Linked DNA regions of Homo sapiens. The protein of the gene in region 3 interacts with the protein of the main gene of each other region in a biochemical or structural test. Each region holds a gene or a part of one and is shown on either strand. Other genes may lie near its edges. The genes, in order: RPA3, CEP164, ATRIP and MCM6.

Region 1 (5,267 bases), on a different chromosome or scaffold from region 3:
AAAAAAAAAAAAAAAAAAAAAATCCAGCGAAAGGGGTTTCCCCTTATAAAGCCATCAGATCTCGTGAGACTTATTCACTACCACGAGAACAGTATGGGGGAAACTGTCCCCATGATTCAGTTATCTCTCATCGGGTCCCTCCCACAACACATGGGAATTATGGGAGCTACAATTCAAGATGAGATTTGAGTGGGGCACAGCCAAACCGTATCACCATCCCACTGAGAGCCACCTCCATCACTCAATAAAATGCCCACATTCACCATCTTTCAAGCCCATGTAACCTGATTCCTCCTCGATGCTAGACAAGAATTCAGGATGCACTGGGTGTGGGAACCCAAAAAGGCTGTCACACTGACTCTACTGAGCTATTTAACACTTAAGCCATTCCCAGACGGCAGGGCTAAAAGAGCACTGTAACGCCCCTAGACACTGCCATGGGGCTGGAGGCCCAAATCACTCACCCCAACTCCTGCACCTGCTCACCTGCATGCTCCCTCTCCCGTAAGGGGTTTGAGTACACGGCAGCCGAGCAAACGAGCCACACCCTGGTTCCAAGTCCCACAAAGGGGTCCAGGGAATTCTCCTGTCTTATAACCATAATGCCAAATTTTGACAAGGACTATACAAAAAAGGAAAATTACAGACCAATCTCACTCATGAACATAGATTAAAAAAAAAAAAATCCTAAACAAAAACAACAGCAAATCAAATCCAGGAATATATATAAAAGACAATATATCATAACCAAGCTTCCAAGAATGTGAGCTTGGTTCAAACACTGAAAAATACATACTCATTTCAATCATCTCAATTAAGGCAAAAAATGCATTTGATCAAATTCCGTAACAATTCAATTAAAATGCTTATCAAACTAGGAATAGAAGGAAAATTCCTTAATCTAATAAACAGAAATTCAAGTTGGGAAGGACTTCGGGGAATACTCCTTAAAGGAAGCTGAATGCGGGTCCACTTCTCTGCCACATAGAACGTGGATTTACTTGATAGCTGAAGCTCCATCACTTACCTGGCCTATGAGATAACCATAAATATGGAACTAGATATTGAATGTAGAACTACAGAAAGACAGAAAGAACCTGGGGCCCTGAGTCTTAGTGCACTACCACATAAGTACTAAGTTGCACAGCTGTGGACTTCTTTCACATGTGAGAATAAGCGTTTGTGCATTAAAGATACTTTTGTTTATGCAGCTAAACCCCATCTTGACTTAAACACTATTTCTATTCAAAATGGTACTGAAGGCTCTATCCTAGGCAAAAGGTAAGAAAGATAAATAAAATATGTAAGAATTCTTAAGAAACAAAACTATAATTATTCAAATATGAATAGAAAATTCCAAAAAAAACTGATAGAAAATTCTTAAAATGGCATTTCTATATACCAAAACAATCAGTTAAAATCTTTAATTTAAAAAATGATACCATTCATAATAGCAACAAAAACAAGGTATCTAGGAATAAATCTAAGCTAAAAGTCAAAACTTTTATGTAGAAAAGTATGAGACCTTTTGGAAAGATTTTAAGAGGACCAAAATGGCTCAAGGATAGTAAGAGTTGACATTCAGGTGTTACTTTTCCTGAAATACATCCAAGGATACAGTGCAATTTTGATCAAAATTCCAACACAGTTTTTCCTGGAAATTCATAAGCTACATTCTATACAGAAGAGCAAAGAGACAAAAATAACCAAGACATTCCCGAGAACACAGCCCCAGACATCAAAAGTTATGATAAGCTACACTATTAAAGAAAATAGGTAGTGGTTCAGGGATAGAAAAATAGATCCATAGAATAGAATTGACTCCACACATATCTGTAAACTTAAGGTGACAAGTGAAGGTGGCAAAAAGGTGATACAGTCAAATCACATTAGGACAACTGAAATTAAAACAAAACAGAGATTGGAGACTTATCTGACAACATACATGAAGAGTGAATTCTAGATGACGGACTATTAAATATGAAAGGCAAAACTCTAAACATTTTAGGAAAAATAGAATACCTTTAAGAGTACGATGTATCAAAGAATTCATAAATGAGATTTTAATGGACTTTTCTCCTACATTAAACTTAAGGGGGAAAATGTTTAACTATATTAAAAGAGGTCTTCCTAATAAAAAAAAAAAAAGGATGGAATGAAGGAAGGAAACGGAAAGATAGGCCAAAAACAGACAACACTTGTACCATTACAATATCTCACTAATAAAAAGCTCTTAAAAGTCAGTAAGAAAAAGAAAAATCAAGGAAAAAAAGATAAACATAAATAACCAATAAAAATCTGAAAAAATGTTCAAACTTTTCAGTAATCAGGGAGTGCAAATTAGGGTCACGACAAAAAAACACTTCATATCCATCAAATTGGGGGAAAAAACTCCAAGAGTTGCCAAGAATATACAATAACTGTAAACTGTCTTATACTCCAGGTAAGAGAGTAAACTGGTACCACCATTTGGGGAAATCATTTTTTTACTAGTGGCAGAGATCCAAGTTACCCCAAGTTACCGGTGGCCTATCCTCACGGGTCAGTAGCAACTTCAGTCCTTGCCTCCTCAGACGAAAAAATTTGACTGAGGGGCATAAAGCAGAAACAGAGACCCAGGCAAGTTCCAGAGCAGGAATGGAAGTTTACTTTAAAAGGCCTTAAAACAGGAAGAAAGGAAGGTGTGCTTGTTAGAGACCCAAGCGGGAATGTGAAGGTTAAAGAGAGTAGGTCAAGTGTCCGATTTAACCGTTGATCCTTTTTTTTTCGTTTGTTTGTTTTTTTTTTTTTTGAGAGGGAGTCTCGCTCTGTGGCCCAGGTTGGAGTGAAGTGGCGCGATCTCGGCTCACTGCAAGCTCCGCCTCTCGGGTTCACGCCATTCTCCTGCCTCAGCCTCCCGAGTAGCTGGGACTACAGGCCCCCGCCATCGCGCCTGGATACTTTTTTGTATATTTAGTAGAGACAGGGTTTCACCATGTTGACCAGGGTGGTCTTGAACTTCTGATCTGAGGTGATCCACCCGCTTCAGCCTCCCAAAGTGCTGGGATTACAGGCGTGAGCCACCGCGCCCGGCCCTGATCCTAGGACTTTTACAAGCTTGTCTATTTCCCATGATTCTTTCCTTAGGATAGGCTGCCGGCAGGCACAGAGCCCTCCTTAGCCTTGGGAAGTGTTTTTAGGGAGTTACATGCACGCCCATCTGAGGCTTCCTTCCTTTTTCCGGTGGAGTGTACCTGGAAGATCATACTTTACCATTTTTGTCTCTTAATATGCATGCCCAGGAAGCTGTTTCTCCCTCGGGTCTACATTCAATTAACATTTTGATAACAGGTGTGGACCATCAGGAAATGGCCTCTCCCTGGCGCTGCAGAATTATCATTTTTAGAGAAGCAAATTCGGTAATTGCCAAACCATCCCCCAACATTTCTAGTGGGTTGGGGGAGAGCCCACTACTGTCCCACTCATGCCTACCTGTAACAGAAAAAAAAATATGATCTACGTACATTCGTCAACATAGATGAATCTCAAAAACAAACAAAAGAAGTCAGAAGATACATACGTTTCTGTTTATATAAAGGTCAAAGACTGGCAATATTAAACAACATACCATTTAGCAACGCCTGCATGTGTGATAAAACCACCTAGAAAAGCTTAGGAAGCTTAACACAAATTTCAAGATAGTGTTTACTTATGGCTGTAGCAAGGAGGGCTTCATTGGGGAAGTGCAAACTGGTAAAATTTACTGGTAACTGGTAAAGTTCCATTTCTTCAGCTGAATGACAGGCCCCATGGATTCATTTCATTTCTCTCAAAACTATGCAAATCGGCTAGCTATACTTTTTTCTGTACATCATGTATTTTATAATATTTTAAGTGACTCAAAAATACACGAAAAAGCTGTTTTAAATTATCTTCCTGCTCATCTCCCTGTTTTAAAAGAAAGCCTTTGCTTAAAAGTGGTCTTTCTAACTGCAGGTAAACAACGACATTAACATCTGGTACTCACAGGAGTGCTCTTTAAAAAAAAAAAAAATCACTATTACAGGGTACGCACCAAGGCTCACACCTGTAATTCCAGTACTTTGGGAGGGAGACGGGGGAGGGAGGGATCGCCTGAGCCCAGGAGTTTGAGATAAGCCTGGTCAACATGGCGAGGCCCCATCTGAACAAAAAAAAACAAACAACAAAAAAAAAATCTTTATTAGCTGGGTGTGGTGGTATGTGCTTATAGTCCCAGCTACTTGGCAGGCTGAGGTGAGAGGATCGCTTAAGCCTACGAGTTAAAGGCTGCAGTGAGCTATGTGCATGCTACTGCACTCCAGTCTGGGTGACAGAGAGAGATCTTGCCTCAAAAAAAAATGCTATTAAAGACATTGATGTGTGTACTCTCCCCTATATAATGCACATCAACTTGCTTTGCAAAACAATGCTAAAGTACAAAAGACTTAAAGCTGTAATATAAAATAGACTTTACTGACTTGCACCAATACAACCACAACTTTTTTATACACCACTGACACACATTCTACATCTGTTTAATGAAATCCTTTAAAGTACCGTTAGTGAGTAAAACTAAGACAAACCTATTAAGTGCTAAGGAAACACTAAGGGAGACTATCATTTAATTATCGTACATGAGATTCCAATCTTAAATTGCCACGTGAAGTCTCAAATCGGATCTTTTTTGCTTAAGGGAATTTGAACGATGACAATTCTGTAGCTTTGGGCCAATTCACAGACTCAGTTTCCACAACGTTATAATACCCAATTAAAACTTCTGTCCAATTTCCACCGTACCGTTTGAAGGTATTTTTATGTGCACTCATTCTAGAATACTCCTGGCAAGGCCGCCGGCTTCGGGTCACAAGATGAGCCAGGGACAGATTGGAGACTACCCCCAAATCTCCCAGGAATCGGTTATCTTCCAGACCTCCAGATCGCCCTCCAGAGTCTCGCAGTGTGGAGGGCAACGACAGAAAGACTGCTGAGGGGGTTTAAACTGTTGAGTCAAACATATGGCCAAAAGTCAGAGTCAACTGGGACCTTGCAAATCATTCCGCCTAACCCTTCGTTTTGCAGATGGGGAAAACACGCCTCAGAAGGGAGAACCCTAGCTCGGGGAACCCTAGCTCGGGGTCTAACAACGATTTAAGCTTGTCTCCCCTAGTACTGGCCAGTGGTTCTTCCCCGTTACCCATCCTTAAGTGCTTCTATTGGCTGCCAACACGGAGGGGTTAGCGGGGTGAAAGAACCGGCGCCTCCGCAGT
Region 2 (5,267 bases), on a different chromosome or scaffold from region 3:
GTGAGAGACTCTCACTCCAGAAGCTGTCAGGCTGCATCCTGCTGGGGCCATGCGTCTGCTCCCAGCACCTTCCTACTGTGCATGGAGGGGTCACAGTGGGCTCACCCTGCCCCAGGCCCCTCACCTGCTCCCTGTGCCGGCGCCGCAAGTCCTCAAGACGCTTGTGTTGCTCCTGCCTCACAGTCTCCAGTTCTCGTTCATGGGCCCTCTGCAGGCGCTCCAGCTCTCCGGTCAGGTGCCCCAGAAGCTCAGCCCGCTGCTTCCTCTCCTGCAAGGAGGGTGGGCCCACCGGTGGGAAGCTGCGGCAGCCCCTTCTACCACAAAAATCACAGCTCCCCTAGCCCTGCAGCCTTGCATCAGTAAGATCAGGGACACCATCGGCTCCCTAAAGCCAGCTCTTGGAGAAGAGGAGGGTTACAAGCACAGCACCGGCCCTGGCCCCAGCAAGCCTGCAGCCCTCTAGAGCTGAAGCAGAGGCTGGTCAGACACCACGACAGATTCCCTTTCTGGCTCTCCCTATGGCTCCACCATATACAACTTTTCCTCTGTAAGGAATGAGAGGTCACTGATAAATTATCACTATTCTTCAGCAAGGTCATAATTGGTTGGGGGAAGGGATATGGCAAATTTCATCATGGGACTGCTATTTCTGCCCTGGGAAAGATCCTAGAAAGAGTCTGGGATACTGGTTCCAGTTACTGGAGCAGTAGTCTTAACACCCTGCAGGGTCCCAGCTGTGGGCTATAGTCAGCCACCCTCTACCCACCCATTGTTCACCCTCAATGTGAGCAAGGCAGGCCAGCTTGGGTAAACTCAAGTCGCTGAACTTTCCTACCTTAAGACCAAAGGCTTAAAATGGGGAGAATATCAGTATTACTTGGCTCTTGCCAGTCTATTTCTTGGTGTCCCAAGATGTTGAGGAACCCTGGTGACACAGCATTGCAGTGAGGAAACTGAAGGCTTTGGAGTCAGATGGCCTGGGCTTGAATCCTAGCTCTTCTACTTATTGGCTGGGTGTGATCTTGGGAAGCTACTTAAACTCTCCAAGTCTCAGTGCCCTCATCTTTAAAATGGAGACAATGATAGTAGATCCTTCCTAAGGCTGGTGTGAGGACTAAATGAGTTAAAATAGATAAAGAGCTCAGAACAGTTCTTGGCACACAGTACAAGCTCAATGTATGGGGGTTCTTTTTACTATCAGAAGAAAGTACAGCCTGCCTGATAAAAGAGGAATTGCCCCCCATTAGGTGGAGGTTTTTCTCATGTTTTAATAAAAAAGGCAAAAAACATCATCGTGGCAGGGTACCAGGAAGGAAAACCTCCCACAATCCCTGACCACAGTTTATCCCCTTCCTCTGCCCCACAGCCAGGTGGGAAGGACCCCGGGGTGTGTGTGCATGTGCGTGCATGTGTGTGTGCATGTGTGTGTGCATGTGCGTGCATGTGTGTGTGCATGTGTGTGCATGCGCGCAGGGGATGTGGCTGAGCTACCTCAGCTTCATACTGCTCTCTGGCCTTAGCCATCACTTGCTGGTGCTCCTCCTTCATCTTGTCCAACCTCCTCTCATGCTCCCCTTCCACTTCCTGGCGCTTCTCTCGCAGGAGACTGCTGAGCTGCAGGGGAGATGGCAGGGATGTGGCATGAAGAACCGAGGCGGACCAGCACTCAGGGCCTGCTGCACCTGAAGGTCTTACACACATTTCCCCAATCTCCCCCAACACACACAACACATGCACATCACACAGCCATGACACCATGGTCAGCACACAGCCATACCCCAACACCCCCTCCCCACATGCATACAGGGGCATCAGATTGGAGGAGTACCTGGCTTCAAGGGAACTAAGGCATAAAAAGGGAACTAGAAATGCTAACCCCAGCTGAGCCATCCAAAGCAAACTGGAGGCCGCTGAGGCTAGGCCGGCTCAGCTGACTGTAAGAGAGTCCACAACAGGCGCACACGACTGTGGAAGACAGAGCAGCACTCACCTCGTGCTCATACCCAGCCACGTGATAAGACTTCTGGTGAACTCTGTGCTCCACTTGCCCAAGGCACTTCTGCAGCTGGGCCTCCTCTTTCTGTTGAGCTTCCTGTATCTTCTTCTGGAGGCTGGAGACCACCTGAGGAGGCCCCCGCACACACAGGGGAGTGTGACCCTCAGACAGACTGTACAGCTGCTGTGTGGGGATGTGTTCTGAGGACCTGGCATCCATCCCCCAGGGCTGGAGAGAGAGGCTCGCTGCCTAGTAGCCAGGGATGGGGCTGAATTCTGCTAATCAGCCATGAAGGGGGCCCAGGATGCTGCATCTTACCTCCCGGTGCTTGGCCTCCAATGAGGAGCAGAGCCGCTCCAGCTCAGCACTGTGCTCCTTCTCCAGCGTTGCCACAGCCTGGGGAGGAGCAAAGGGACTGTGAGTGAAGCTGGCCAGGTACTGATCATGGTGGGAGGCGGAGCCAGGAAGACTACCGACCCCCAAGCCCTCGAGATCAGGGTCAAGGGAAGCATGGGGAAGCACAGCACATCTTTGTTCCTCTGAAATAACTCAGCCCCTGAAGTCTACAACTGGCAAATGAACAGGAACATGAAGGTCAGAGGAGAGGGGCATTTCAGTAAGTTTCGGCTCTCTGCTCCCACCCCCTGCCTTTAGACTAGGCCACAGATCCACAGATGGTGCTCATGCTGGTAAATAAGATCCAAGCCAGGGGGGCCAGGTTGGATGCTGTCATTAAGTCGGGCCATGTAGAATTTTCTTTTTATTTTGGTGAGGTGCAAAGCTGCAGCTATTAGACAAGGAAAACACTACAGCAGGAGTAGGGAAGTGCACTGTACTACAAGTGCTCAGAGAGACTGTGCTAAAACCTTCAGAAGCCCACCATCTGACTGGAGTAGAAGAGGGAGTATGGACAAAGAGAAAATCCTTGCTATATTGCTAGCCTCTCATCCTAAGAAAGGAGAGAAAAGTGGGGAGTGAGGCCCTTGCAGCTGTCCCTCAGAGACAGTGAGGGACAGAGCGCCTTTGTCTCAAAACCTCTGGTCTGGCTAAATCTCTTTCAGTCACGAACTTTCTCAAATCCACAGGACGCTCTCCCTCAAGCCTCTGAGGGTTCTCTGCTTGACAACCTCCAGCCGCCACTGCCATCCAGCCTGACCCTGGAGGAGCCTTGTGATGCCTGCTGCATCCTCTGCCCTGTCATGAGCCGATTCGGTCCATATGGAGTAATGGGCCCAGGTGGTCATCTCGCTGTCTCCCATGCCTGTGTGTGTGAGACCTACTCTCCACCTGGCTCCCCAGCCTGCACGCCCACCCGAGACTTGCCCTTCTTCTCCTTGTGCACTCAGTCCCTCCCCAGGCAGCCCAGACACAGGTCAGAGGGTGAGGTCCCCACTTGACTAGCTCACTTCTTTCCTCTCCCCTTCCAGCTGCTCCCTCAGCTGCTGCAGAGCCTTCTCCTTTGCAGCATTCAGGGCAGCCTGCTCGCTCTTCTCCGAAGCCTCTATCTCTTCCTTGAGCTGCTCCAGCATTTGCCTATTTTTCTGTTCCAAGCTGGCCCTCTCAGCCTTCTGTTGAGACTCCAACTCTTCTCTCAGTTTCTGCAGGGAAGCCTCTTGCTCAGCCCTGGGTGGACACAGTGGAATGGTAACGGGCCTGTGCACCCTGGGGTCGCCTCCGCAGGGCTGGGCAGCTCACAGGTAAGCACACACTTACCTGATTTGGTCCTCATCTGCTTGTGTGCTGGACTGGACCTGAGCTCGGAGCCAGGATAGCCTCTGGCTTTCCTCCTCTCTCATCCGGGCCTCCTCCTCCTCAATGGCTTTCTGCAGCCGCTCCCTCAAGGAACTGAGATGGAAAGGAAAGGCTAGGTTGTCAGAGAAACCACAAAGGTCTTTCTTCTATTCATAAGCTATGGCTCTCAGCCTCCAATAGCCCTGTTGCCTGCCTAAGAAACTTCCTAAATCTTTTTTTTTTTTTTTCTTTTTGGAGACAGGTTCTTGCTCTGTTGTCCAGGCTGGAATGCAGTGGTGTGATCATGGCTTACTGCAGCCTTAAACTCCTGGGCTTAAGCAATCCTCTCGCCTCAGCATCCCATGTAGTTGGGACCACAGGCATGCACCATCAAACCCAGCTAATTGTTGAGATGGAGTCTCGCTATGTTGCCCAGGCTGGTCTTGAACTCCTAGGCTCAAGTGATCCTTCAGCCTCAGCCTCCCAAAGCACTGAGATTACAGGTGTGAGCCACTGCGCCCAGTCAAAGCTTCCTAAATCTTAAAGATGAGTCTAACCTTAGCCTCTAGGTCCACTGCTGCCTCCCTAATACCTCCCAGGATTACGAAGGGACCATGAACTCCCCTTTGCTTCAAGAAGCAAACTAATGGCCGGGCGTGGTGGCTCACACCCGTAATCCCAGCACTTTGGGAGGCCGAGGTAGGTGGATCACTTGAGGTCAGGAGTTCGAGACCAGCCTGGCCATAATGGCGAAACCCCGTCTCTACTAAAAATACAAAAATTAGCCGGGCATGGTGGCGCACACCTGTAATCCCAGCTACTTGGGAGGCTGAGACAGGAGAATTGCTGGAACCTGGGAGGCAGAGGTTGCAGTGAGCTGAGATCACACCACAGCACTCCAACCTGGGCAACAGAGCAAGACTCTATCTCCAAAAAAAAAAAAAAAAAAAAAGCAAACTACTGGCTTCTGGGTTTTGGTAGTACAGCACTTCTTCCAAAGGCTCCCCTCTGTCAACAGCTTCACCTCAGCATGGCACTCACTCAAGGATAGCTATAGCCACCCAACCAGATTCCACATTCTTTCACTCCGACAGACTCTGTTCTAGCCACATCAGCTGAGTCACCATCCCTCCATTCTACCACACTCTTCCTTCCTAGGTTCTCTGCCAAGAATTCCCTTTTCTATCTGGCAAACCCATATTCATTCCTCAACACTCAGCTCCCTCTCTGGGAAGTCTTTCCAACTCCCTACAAGCTCATCAATTCATCTTTCTGTTCCCATCACTTTACATGTGGACCTTTCTTATCCCATGCTACTCTGCACCATGCGTCACATGGCATCATAATTCATCTTCTGTATCTCTGTTTTCCTTGCAAGTCTGGGAGCTTCTCAAGAGAAAGAATCTTGTCTTAAAATCTGTTATATCCCAGGTACCACACATAGTAGCTGACATAAAGTAGGTGCTTAATAAATTAATTGAATTTGAACAGCATCATCCAGCCCCAAACTATAAGCAAGCCGTGATATCTATGAAAGGTT
Region 3 (5,267 bases):
CTTGTAGTGGTCCCATCATATACACAAAAATATCTCTGGGCTTCAAAATCACAAGCCAGTAAAAGACAAACAATGAAAAATACATATGAAAGTCTGCTGTGACATAAATGTCCTAAAATATTAAACATTAGCTTTCTTTCTGAAAGACAATATGGTACTCTAAAAAGATACTGGACTCTATTGTAAGGGTAGTTTGTGAGGGTTTAAATACCAGCCCTGGCCGGGTGTGGTGGTTCAGGCCTGTAATCCTAAGCACTTTGGGAGGTTGAGGCGGGAGGATCATTTGAGCCCAGGAGTTCGAGACCAGCCTGGGCAAAATAGCAAGATCTTGCCTCTACAAAAAATTTAAAAAATAAAAAAAAGAATTAAATACCAGCCCACCATTTATTTAATGTCTTTGAATCCTAACTTATTTGTAACATAAAACACCTGTCTTCATGATAGTTGGGAGGATTAAGTAGAATGATGAGTGTAAAATACCCAGCATAGAGCTTGGTAAGGTGCCCTATGTCAGCAGTAACATATTGACCTTTATTAACGAACGCACTGGTGCACAATTCCAGGTCTTCCTCAAAGTTTGGGCAGAGTAGTTGGAATAGTTTACCAAGACACTGTGCAGTATAGAGAGACCTGCTGCTCTGGCCTGCAGTTGCTACAGCCAACAGTAACTGCCATCATTCCCCAAGCACACTCTGCGCCAGGCCCAGCACCAGACACAGTAAGTGCAAGAATGTGTGAGTCTCCCAACAACCTTTCTGGTTATGTCTTGGAACAGATAAGGGAAATGAGCCAGGGAGCTTAAGTTATTACCTTGAGGTCACTGCTTATGTGTGATGAAGCCTGGATTCAAATTCAGGTTTGTCTGACCGCAAATTCCTTGCTCTTCATCACTTATACAGAAAGTTAACTATTGCGGTTAATGATGGGCACAGGTAAGTGCTTAAAGTTTGCTAAGTTTGCTGAATGAAACAATGAGAATAAGATCCCATGTCCTTGAGATTGAAGCATGAGGAGGTGCTGAGGGAAAGTTGTAGTAGGTACTGGATACCTACTGTTTTTCCTTCCAGAATAGCATTTTCCTTTCCCTGAGAAACAGGCTGGGCATTGTGGCTCACGCCTGTAATCTCAGCACTTTGGAAGGCCAAGGTGGGAGGACTGCATGAGCCCAGGAGCTTGAGAACGGCTTGGAGAATACAGCAAAACCCTGTCTGTACCAAAATTTAAAAATTAGCTTTGCCTGGTGGTGTGTGCCTATAGTTCCAGCTACCTGGGAGGCTGAGATGGGAGGATTGCTTGAGCCTGGGAGGTCAAGGCTGCAGTGAGCTGTGATTGCACCACTGCACTCCAGCCTGGGCAAGAGAGTGAAACCCTGGACCCTGTCTCAAAAAAAAAAAAAAAAAAAAAAAAATTCAATAATTTCCCTACCTCTGACTATTTTATTAGAATGGGAGCTGTCATTTTTTTGCTTTTGGTTGCTTTTGGTTATAGCAATTGGCCAGGGACAGACAACTGACTCAAGTTAAACCAATCAGAGCCTTTCTCAGAATTTTAAAACTTGAGATGAGGGAGCCTAAGTCTTTTTTTGAAACAGGGTCTCGCTCTATTGCCCAGGCTGGAGTACAATGGCATGATCATGGCTTACTGCAGCCTCAACCTCCTGGGCTCAAGCAATTCTCCCACCTCAGCCTCCTGAGTAGCTGGGACTACAGGTGCACACCACCATGCCTGGATAATTTTGTTCATTTTTTCTTTTTCTTTTTTGTGGAGATGAGGTCTCACTAGTTGCCCAGGCTGGTCTCGAACTCCTGGCTCAAGTAATCCTCTCACCTCAGCCTCCCAAAGTGCTGGATTATAGGTGTGAGCCACTGCATGTGGCCCTAAGTCTTAATTCTGCTCTGTATTTATAAAATATGAGCCCAGGAGCTTCTGGAGAACACACCCTCTACCATAAGTATAGAGCCTGTTTATAGCATAGAGAATAAAAATGTCCTGGCAAGATTTAAGTCATTTAAGGTCCCAGCATACCCCGGTTCTTCCCAGACTTGGATATGGAAGCCAATACGTTTCCTTTTAGCCTAAGCCAGGTCAGTTGAGTTTCTGATCTAGCAAAAGAGCCTTAATGTAAACCTGTTTCTAGAAATGCTAAGCTAGTTATTTACTCCTGCCAAGACCAACTACCACAGCAAAATAGAGTTTCATCTAAATCCCTTTCCAAAATATATCCAGACCCTGGAAGAAGAGTGGATGGCAATGAGATGATAGCAGAAAGTATTTAAGACAAACAAGTGTTGAAATCTCCCTGGAAGATTTACAGGCAACCCTGGTCAAAGGAACTCAGTGGGCAGGCAAAGCTGGTGCAAAACAAATGCTCTGGGTCACCTTTTTGGAGAATTCCTTTTCCTTGTCACTGAGTGCTTGGGTTTTCTCTTGCTCAAGAAGAAAATGTGATCTTCTCTGTTCCTCTAGAACGGATTCCGTCTGATGTAGTGAGTCTCGCAAAATTTTAATTTCTCCATTCTTAATGAGAACTTCTTCTTCCATTACTTTCATCTGTAAATCCCAAATTAATCTCGTGAAAACTTTGTAAGAGAAAACTACTTAGGTACTTTGTTTTAACATGTAGTTGGGGAGATGGAGAAAGCACAGGAAAAACAGACAAATGAGTACTCAAAATATATCCACAGCAACCAGATGTCACCATGGTCTGCTAGGCCTGTTCATGGGACAGCTGATATTCATCAAGATAGCTTAAGCATACACTTGCCACTCATGCATGCAGATTCTTTTTGCCAGGGAGGGGGATGGGGTTGCTTAGGCTGGAATGCTGTGGCACAATCATAGCTCAATGTAACCTTGAACTCCTGGGCTCAAGTGATCCTCTCGCCTCAACCTCTTGAGTAGCTAGGACTACAAAGCATGTGCCACTAGCCTGGCCAATTTTCACTTTTATCTGTAGAGACAGGGTCTCATTGTATTGCCCAGGCTGGTCTTGAACTCTTGGGTTCAAGCGATTCTCTCACCTTGGCCTCCCAAAGTGCTGGGATTACAGGCATGAGCCACCTTGCCTGACCAGATTCCTTTTTTTTTTTGAGACGGAGTCTTGCTATTGTCGCCTAGGCTGGAGTGCAATGGCACGATCTCGGCTCACTGCAACCTTCACCTCCCAGGTTCCAGCAATTCTCCTGCCTCAGCCTCCCGAGTAGCTGAGATTACAGGTGCCCGCCACCATGCCTAGCTAATTTTTGTATTTTTAGTAGAGACGGGTTTTCACCATGTTGGCCAGGCTGGTCTTGAACTCCTGACCTCAGGTGATCCACTGGCCTCGGCCTACCAAAGTGCTGGGATTACAGGTGTGAGCCACCGCGCCTGGCCGGATTCTTTAGGCTCTAAGAGGCATTAACGATCTGGGTCGCTGGGTGTGGTAGCTCATGCCTGTAATCCCAACACTTTGGGAGGCTGAGGCCAGGAGTTTGAGACCAGCCTGGCCAACATGGTGAAACTCCGTCTCTACTAAAAATACAAGAATTAGCTGGGCGTCGTGGTGCACACCTGTAGTCCCAGCTACTCTGGAAGCTAAGGCATGTGAATCGCTTAAAACCAGGAGGCAGAGGTTGAAGTGAGCCAAGATTGTGTCACTGTACTCCAGCCTGGATGACAGACTCCATCTCCAAAAAAAAAAAAAAAAAAAATCTGGGTCACATACCTTGCACAACTAAAATTCCACATATTCCTGGTTTTCTTAGGGACCTACAGATGGTGATATGAAGTGTCTGCTTTCTTGCAAAGCTGCTAATGAAAATAGCAACCATTATGAAGTTGTATTATTCACATGAAGATACATGCTATAAATTCATCTTAGTACCCTAACAGTTTGTATCTCTTTTTGGATCTGGTATACAGTGTTTTTCTTCTTGCCTTTGGCATTAGGAATCTCACAATTTAGTTTCTTTCAGCCTAAACTTTCTGGTTTTCTTTCCCTAGTCTTTTCCCATGTCATAGGGATGAATCTAGACACTTGTTTTACAACTTTTGTATATTTTACTGTACAATGCTTTTAAACACGTAAGTGAATGAATTAGCTACAAAAACCACAAGTTAAGTCACTTACCTTTTCTTTAAGTTCTTTGTATTGTGCCTGAAGTACCTCTAATTCGAAATTATCTTTAATTGGAACAGTTTCTCTGTTTTTCCCTGAAGGATTTTTTGACATGCCATCTAATAATCTGTGGACCTTATGATCACCTGTAAAAAATAGTTCCATATACATTTCAGGACCCAATATTTTCCCACTTTTGCCAGAAAATGCTGAAAATACCCACTTTTTTTTTTTTTTTCTTTTTTGAGATAGGGTCTTGCTCTGTTACCCAGGTTGGAGTGCAGTGGTGTGATCACTGCTTACTGCCACCTTGACCTCCTGGGTTCAAGTGATCCTCCTGCCTTAGCCTCCTGTGTAGCTGGGACTACAGGTGTGTGCCACCATGCCTGGCTTTTTTTTTTTTTTTTTTTTTGGATTTTAGTAGAGATGGCGTTTCACCATGTTAGCCAGGCTGGTCTTGATTTCCTGTCCTCGCGATCCACCCGCCTCAGCCTCCCAAAGTGTTGGGATTACAGGCGTCAGCCACTGTGCCTGGATGCCTGGCTAATTTTAAAATTCTTTGTAGAGATTGGGTCTCCTTATGTTGCCCAGGTTGGTCTTGAACTCCTGGGCTTAAGCAATCCTCCTGCCTTTGCCTCCCAAAGTGCTGGGAAGAATTACTCTTGAGAGCAAAGCAGGGAAAGATCTAGTAAGCAATATAGATGTTTTTCAACCTAAGAACATGGTTCAAACTCATAAATGATCCTTCTTTTTTTTTTTTTTTTTTTTTGAGACAGAGTCTCGCTCTGTTGCCCAGGCTGGAGAGCAGTGGCGTGATCTCGGCTCACTGCAACCTCCACCTCCCAGGTTCAAGCGATTCTTGTGCCTCACCCTCCTAGGTAGCTGGAATTACAGGCGTGTGCTACCACGCCCGGCTAATTTTTATATTTTTAGTAGAGACGGGGTTTCACCATATTGGCCAGCCTGGTCTCAAACTCCTCGCCTCAAGTGATCAGCCCACCTTGGCCTCCCAAAGTGCTGGGATTACAGGCGTGAGCCACCACACCCGGCTGAAACTCATAAATGATCCTTCTAAAACAACAGATCCTATTATTCTTTCCCTATCCTTCATCCAATTCCAAGAGTCTCATCTAAAGCCTGAGGAGATCTCATTGGCCAGAACTCAATGATC
Region 4 (4,926 bases), on a different chromosome or scaffold from region 3:
ACCATAGGTGTGCGCCACCACGACTGGCTAATTTTTTGTATTTTTAGTAGAGATGGAGTTTTGCCATGTCACCCAGGCTGGTCTTGAACTCCTGGGCTCAAGCAATCCTCTTGCCTCAGCCTCCTAAAGTGTTGGGATTACAGGTGTGAGCCAGCGCACCCAGCCACACATTATTTTAAAATTTGTTTACATAATACAAAAATAAGTATTTTGCCCCAAATTTTCTCTTTAAAAATATGCTGAACATATTTTGTAAGAGATTCAAACAATATGGAAACATCTATGAAAAACTTGCAAATTCCTTCACCCTCCCCCCTCCTCTTCCTATAATAAGTATCTTCAGCAATATGTATCTTTCCAGTTTTCTTTCTCTGCATATCTTAATGGTTATACAGGAGTCAGAATGCCTGGGTTTAAATCTCACCTGACAAAAATTACTTAACTTTGTGCCTCTATTTTGTCACCTGTAGAATGTGGATAATTCATCATAGGCTGTGGGGATTAAATGGGTCTTTCTTGTAGCATGTATACAACAGTACAGCTCAGGGATCATTATTATTACGTAAATACAAATGGAAACGTGTATAACATTTAAAATATAGAACAATTTAACATATATGGAATTATGCCATATGTATTTTCAGCCTTTTCTTCACTTAATAGCTCTTAGAGTTCTGCCTGTATCAGAACATATAGACCCACCTCTAACAGATGCATAGCTTTCCACAGCAAGAATGTACCATAAATTAACATCTTGCATATTAAACACCGGTTGGTTTTACATTTTTGTGTTGCAAACAATGCTGCAAATGAATATCCTTATATACAGGCTGGGCATGGTCAATCACGCCTGTTTTGCCAGTACTTTTGGAGGCTCAGACTGTAGGACTGCTCAAGCCCAGGAGCTTGAGGCCAGTCTGGGCAACACAGGGAGATCATCTCAAAAAAAAAAATGGTTTTTGATTGATTGAAATGCAAATTGTCTTCCAAGTTAAATCCTACATAGAGTTAGATGTGTGCCTGTATCCGTCTGCCTTGCTAATGCCTATTATAAAACTTTTACATTTTTGATACTTTGACGTAAATATTATGTGCTTTTCTTTTTCTGATTATTTAAGAGGTGAAGCTCTTCTTGTTAATTGGGCATTTTTCTTCTGAGTTTTATCTTATTACTGATATAAAAATTCTTAATGGGAGTTTGGATATCACATATTAAAACGTGATAGAAAAATTTTCCCATCTTTTAATTTGGTTTATAGTGTCTGTTTTTTTTTAATAGACTCCCATGACTTTCCATAGACTGTAGAGGGTGAAGCCTGGGAATCTTTTTTTGTTGTTGTTGTTGCCGCCCAAGCTGGAGGGCAGTGGCATGATCTCAGCTCACTGCAACTTCCACCTCTTGGGTTCAAGCAATTCTCCTGCCTCAACCTCCTGAGTAGCTGGGATTACAGGTGCCCACCACCATGCCTGGCTAATTTTTGTACTTTTAGTAGAGACAGGTTTTCTCCACGTTGGCCAGGCTTGTCTCGAACTCCTGACCTCAGGTGATCTACTCACCTTGGCCTCCCAAAGTGCTGGGATTACAGGCGTGAGCCACCGTGCCTAGCCTTTTTTTTTCTTAAGTGAAAGCAAGGCTATTAGGAAAGTAAAGGAATAAAAAATGGTTACTACGTCAGCAGAGCAGCCTAGTCTTTAAAGATACATTACCTGATACCAGTCTTCTTATAAAAATCCCATGACAAATCTACTTGAGTATTCACTCTTGTTTTTAATGTTTGCCATTTATTTTTAAAATACTTAATTGTACATACTTGTGGAGTACATTTTGACAAGGTTTCATACAAGTTGATTCCAGGGAAAGAGATAATTATTGGGAGAAACATATTTAAATCATTGTTTTAACCTATATTAATCTGTCTTGCTTTCTACTAATAGATTTCTGGCTGCTCAAATTCACATTGCACTGGAAAGCTCAGACATCAAGGCAAGTTGAGTACTCATGGGTATTAGACTGTCCCACGTGGGCCTTAGCCTCAGACAGTTATTTTGCTTTTGTGACCTTTAACATACTTTGTGATTTAATGAATGCCATCTGTTGTTAAAAGCTGCAACACAGGAACTGCTCCACCTCATGAACATACTGATCATAGCTAAGTCTCAGGAACTGTTAGTATCATAAACGGTAATAACTTTTCCTGGAAGACCATAAAATTTGGGGATTGCTTGTAATATAGCAAATGACCTATTTCCCCTAAAAAAGCAATTTGAAAACAATCCTGAGAAATTACCCTTAGGACACAGAAGTAAAATAAATTACTAAAGAGTAATTTTAAAAAAGTATAATAAACTTTTATAAACTTAAAAAAAAAAAAAAACAACTGGAATTAACCTTGGAAAGTCATCTCTAAGGCCTCTAGCTTTCATATGAGTTCTCTAATGACTCCTTCTCATAGAAACCTCATCCATAATACCACAGTTCTACCTCTTCACTCCAGGTTAAGCAAAAAGGGAAAGTCTCACATTCAGAAGTAGATGGAAGTAATAATCAGGGTACAGTAGAAAGAAATCCAATAGACAACTTCAGAACAAGTTATTTTATTTTGATGAATAAAAGCAGTAGCTGGCAATTGAAAAAAAGTTATTTGCTCAATAGGACAGCACATACCTTAAAAGTAATGGGCCTTTTCTTACACATGAAAACAAAGGTATTGGTTATAGAGACTACACATTATTTGGTTCCAACTTCACTGGGACAGGAAACACACCAAAGGAAGTGCTGAAGCCTGTGTTGGTATGAAACCTGTGATGAATGTGACACATAGGACCATCAACTCAATTCTTGTTTCTGAAAACAAATCCTGGAAGCATCACTTCCAGAAACACTTCTGTCCCTAGCAGAGCTCCAGCCAGGCTCCAGGCCACGAGGTGCTGTGCCACAGTTCCTCAGCTCTGGTCAGTTACTTTCACTATCTCAATCTTCGAGCAAGTAGTTAGGGTTAACTACCAAGTAGGGATCTTCTTCATAGCTCTCACTTCCCTCTGTGGAGCCTTTCAATCCAGCCTGGGTGAGCTCAATTAGAACATGATCCTGTGAAACACAAATATTTGTCCTCAGGTTTCAAGCAGTATTATACCAATGTCCAGATATACAAGACTTGACCCTTCTTCCGAGTGTTTGCTATCAACATTTTCTTTCATTTCCCAACTAGAAACTCCTAGGAAAAGGACCACACTTTAAAAATCACTATCAGTGCTCTGCTAAACCCTGTTCCTAGTAGGATGCTGACCTTTTCATACCATAAACCCCTTGTGGAAAATTAAGAAATACTTAAATATATTACATCAAATGCTTGTAAATACAACTTCAAAAAAGGAAGTAATGCTTGAATTTTAAGGTTAAACAACTCTGCAAAATCTTCTAATTAATTGGAAGTCTGTTTCATACTTAATATCATTCAGCAATTTTTAATTATGACCACTGAACTTTTTCATATACCACCATTTCATAGAGTTAGGAGAAGAATCTATGAAAATTCATCTGAAAAATTTTTCACTCTGAGCTAATAAAAAAAAAGGTAGAACATGCCATCTGGCTTAAAATCTTGATGACAGATTTTAAGCCCACGATATAATTACAGGTTAGTCAAAACTGTCCACAAATGAGAAGAGCTCCTAGCCAAGCCCATAGAAAGGAACTCAGGAAACTGTGATTTGATCCTAAGAAGTCTGGCAAGGCTCCACAGTATAAACACTGAAGCCACTAAGGGGGACTGGACACTTTTTAAAAAATTGCCCTTTCAAATCTACCCCTGAAGTTAGATTGGACACTTTCAAGCACTCACTCTATGTGTTAACATACCTTCATAGGAAGCATCATATCTCATCAGCACAGTATAAGCTCTCTAGTTTTCTGTAGCAAATTAGTTCAGGTGGTAAGCCAAATTTTAAAAGGTAATCCAGGCTGAGCGCAGTAGCTCATGCCTGTAATCCCAGCACTTTGGGAGGCTGAGGTGGGTGGATCACCTGAGGTCAGGAGTTTGAGACCAGCCTGGCCAACATGGTGAAACACCATCTCTACTAAAAATACAAAAATTAGCTGGGAGTGGTGGCGGGCACCTGTAATCCCAGCTACTCTGGAGGCTGAGATAAGAGAATCATTTAAACCCAGAAGGCGGAAGTTGCGGCGAGCTGAGATCATGCTACTGCACTCCAGTCTGGGCAACAGAGCAAGACTCTCTCAAAAGATAAATAAATAAATAAATAAATAAATAGGTAATTCAAGTTTAGATCAGTTAGCTTCACAGTGTGTTCCAAAGTCCTGAAGCAGATTCCTTGCCTGGGTCGTTTTACTTTACACTGATCCCAAGGAGCACACAGACATGTCCCACCACTAGAAAAGCAACTCTGGACCCTGATCTGAGTAGCTGTTCTTACACCTCCCTACCCCTCAATAATCACAGACTGATCTACCTTCACAGGAAAACGGTTTTTGAGAAGACACAACCCCAATACATGACCTCTGTAATATTTATATAGTGAGCCCTGTGAATTGGCACGACAGTTAAATCTCTGCCACATAATAGGAAAATTTAACCATTCAACATATATTTGATCCTGCTATGTGCCAGGTACCACTGTAGCTCCGGGGCAAAGTCTCTACCCTCACAGAGCTTATATTCCATAAGAGAGACAAACTAACCACTTAAATAAAGAATATACTGCTGGGCCATGTTAAACATTACGAAGAAATACAAGGCAGGGTGACAGCAAGAGCAGAAGGCTACTATTTTGGCAGGCTAGCAAGAAAGGTTTCTTTGAAGAGGTAACATTTGAGCAGACATTGGAGAGGAGGAGGATATCTAGGGAAATGGACAAAGGGTGAGTGCAAAGGCCCTCATATTTGGTGTGCCTAGGGATCAAGGCCAG

What was found.
Region 1: the proteins of ATRIP (region 3) and RPA3 form a complex in vitro, tested with the Homo sapiens proteins (one study listed by BioGRID).
Region 2: the proteins of ATRIP (region 3) and CEP164 form a complex in vitro, tested with the Homo sapiens proteins (one study listed by BioGRID).
Region 4: the proteins of ATRIP (region 3) and MCM6 form a complex in vitro, tested with the Homo sapiens proteins (one study listed by BioGRID).

The regions. Positions count from the first base shown.
Region 1 is NC_000007.14:7,641,236-7,646,502, reverse strand, and holds part of RPA3 (replication protein A 14 kDa subunit), read left to right. Parts: intron 1-5,267. UniProt on the Homo sapiens protein: As part of the heterotrimeric replication protein A complex (RPA/RP-A), binds and stabilizes single-stranded DNA intermediates that form during DNA replication or upon DNA stress.
Region 2 is NC_000011.10:117,389,351-117,394,617, reverse strand, and holds part of CEP164 (centrosomal protein of 164 kDa), read right to left. Parts: intron 3,842-5,267; coding exon 3,710-3,841; intron 3,620-3,709; coding exon 3,403-3,619; intron 2,393-3,402; coding exon 2,315-2,392; intron 2,123-2,314; coding exon 1,991-2,122; intron 1,615-1,990; coding exon 1,492-1,614; intron 269-1,491; coding exon 125-268; intron 1-124. UniProt on the Homo sapiens protein: Plays a role in microtubule organization and/or maintenance for the formation of primary cilia (PC), a microtubule-based structure that protrudes from the surface of epithelial cells. Plays a critical role in G2/M checkpoint and nuclear divisions.
Region 3 is NC_000003.12:48,449,012-48,454,278, reverse strand, and holds part of ATRIP (ATR-interacting protein), read right to left. Parts: intron 4,243-5,267; coding exon 4,109-4,242; intron 3,787-4,108; exon of another isoform or gene 3,704-3,786; intron 2,551-3,703; coding exon 2,380-2,550; intron 1-2,379. UniProt on the Homo sapiens protein: Required for checkpoint signaling after DNA damage. Required for ATR expression, possibly by stabilizing the protein.
Region 4 is NC_000002.12:135,837,864-135,842,789, forward strand, and holds the end of MCM6 (DNA replication licensing factor MCM6), read right to left. Parts: intron 3,089-4,926; coding exon 2,972-3,088; 3' UTR 1,763-2,971; downstream 1-1,762. UniProt on the Homo sapiens protein: Acts as a component of the MCM2-7 complex (MCM complex) which is the replicative helicase essential for 'once per cell cycle' DNA replication initiation and elongation in eukaryotic cells.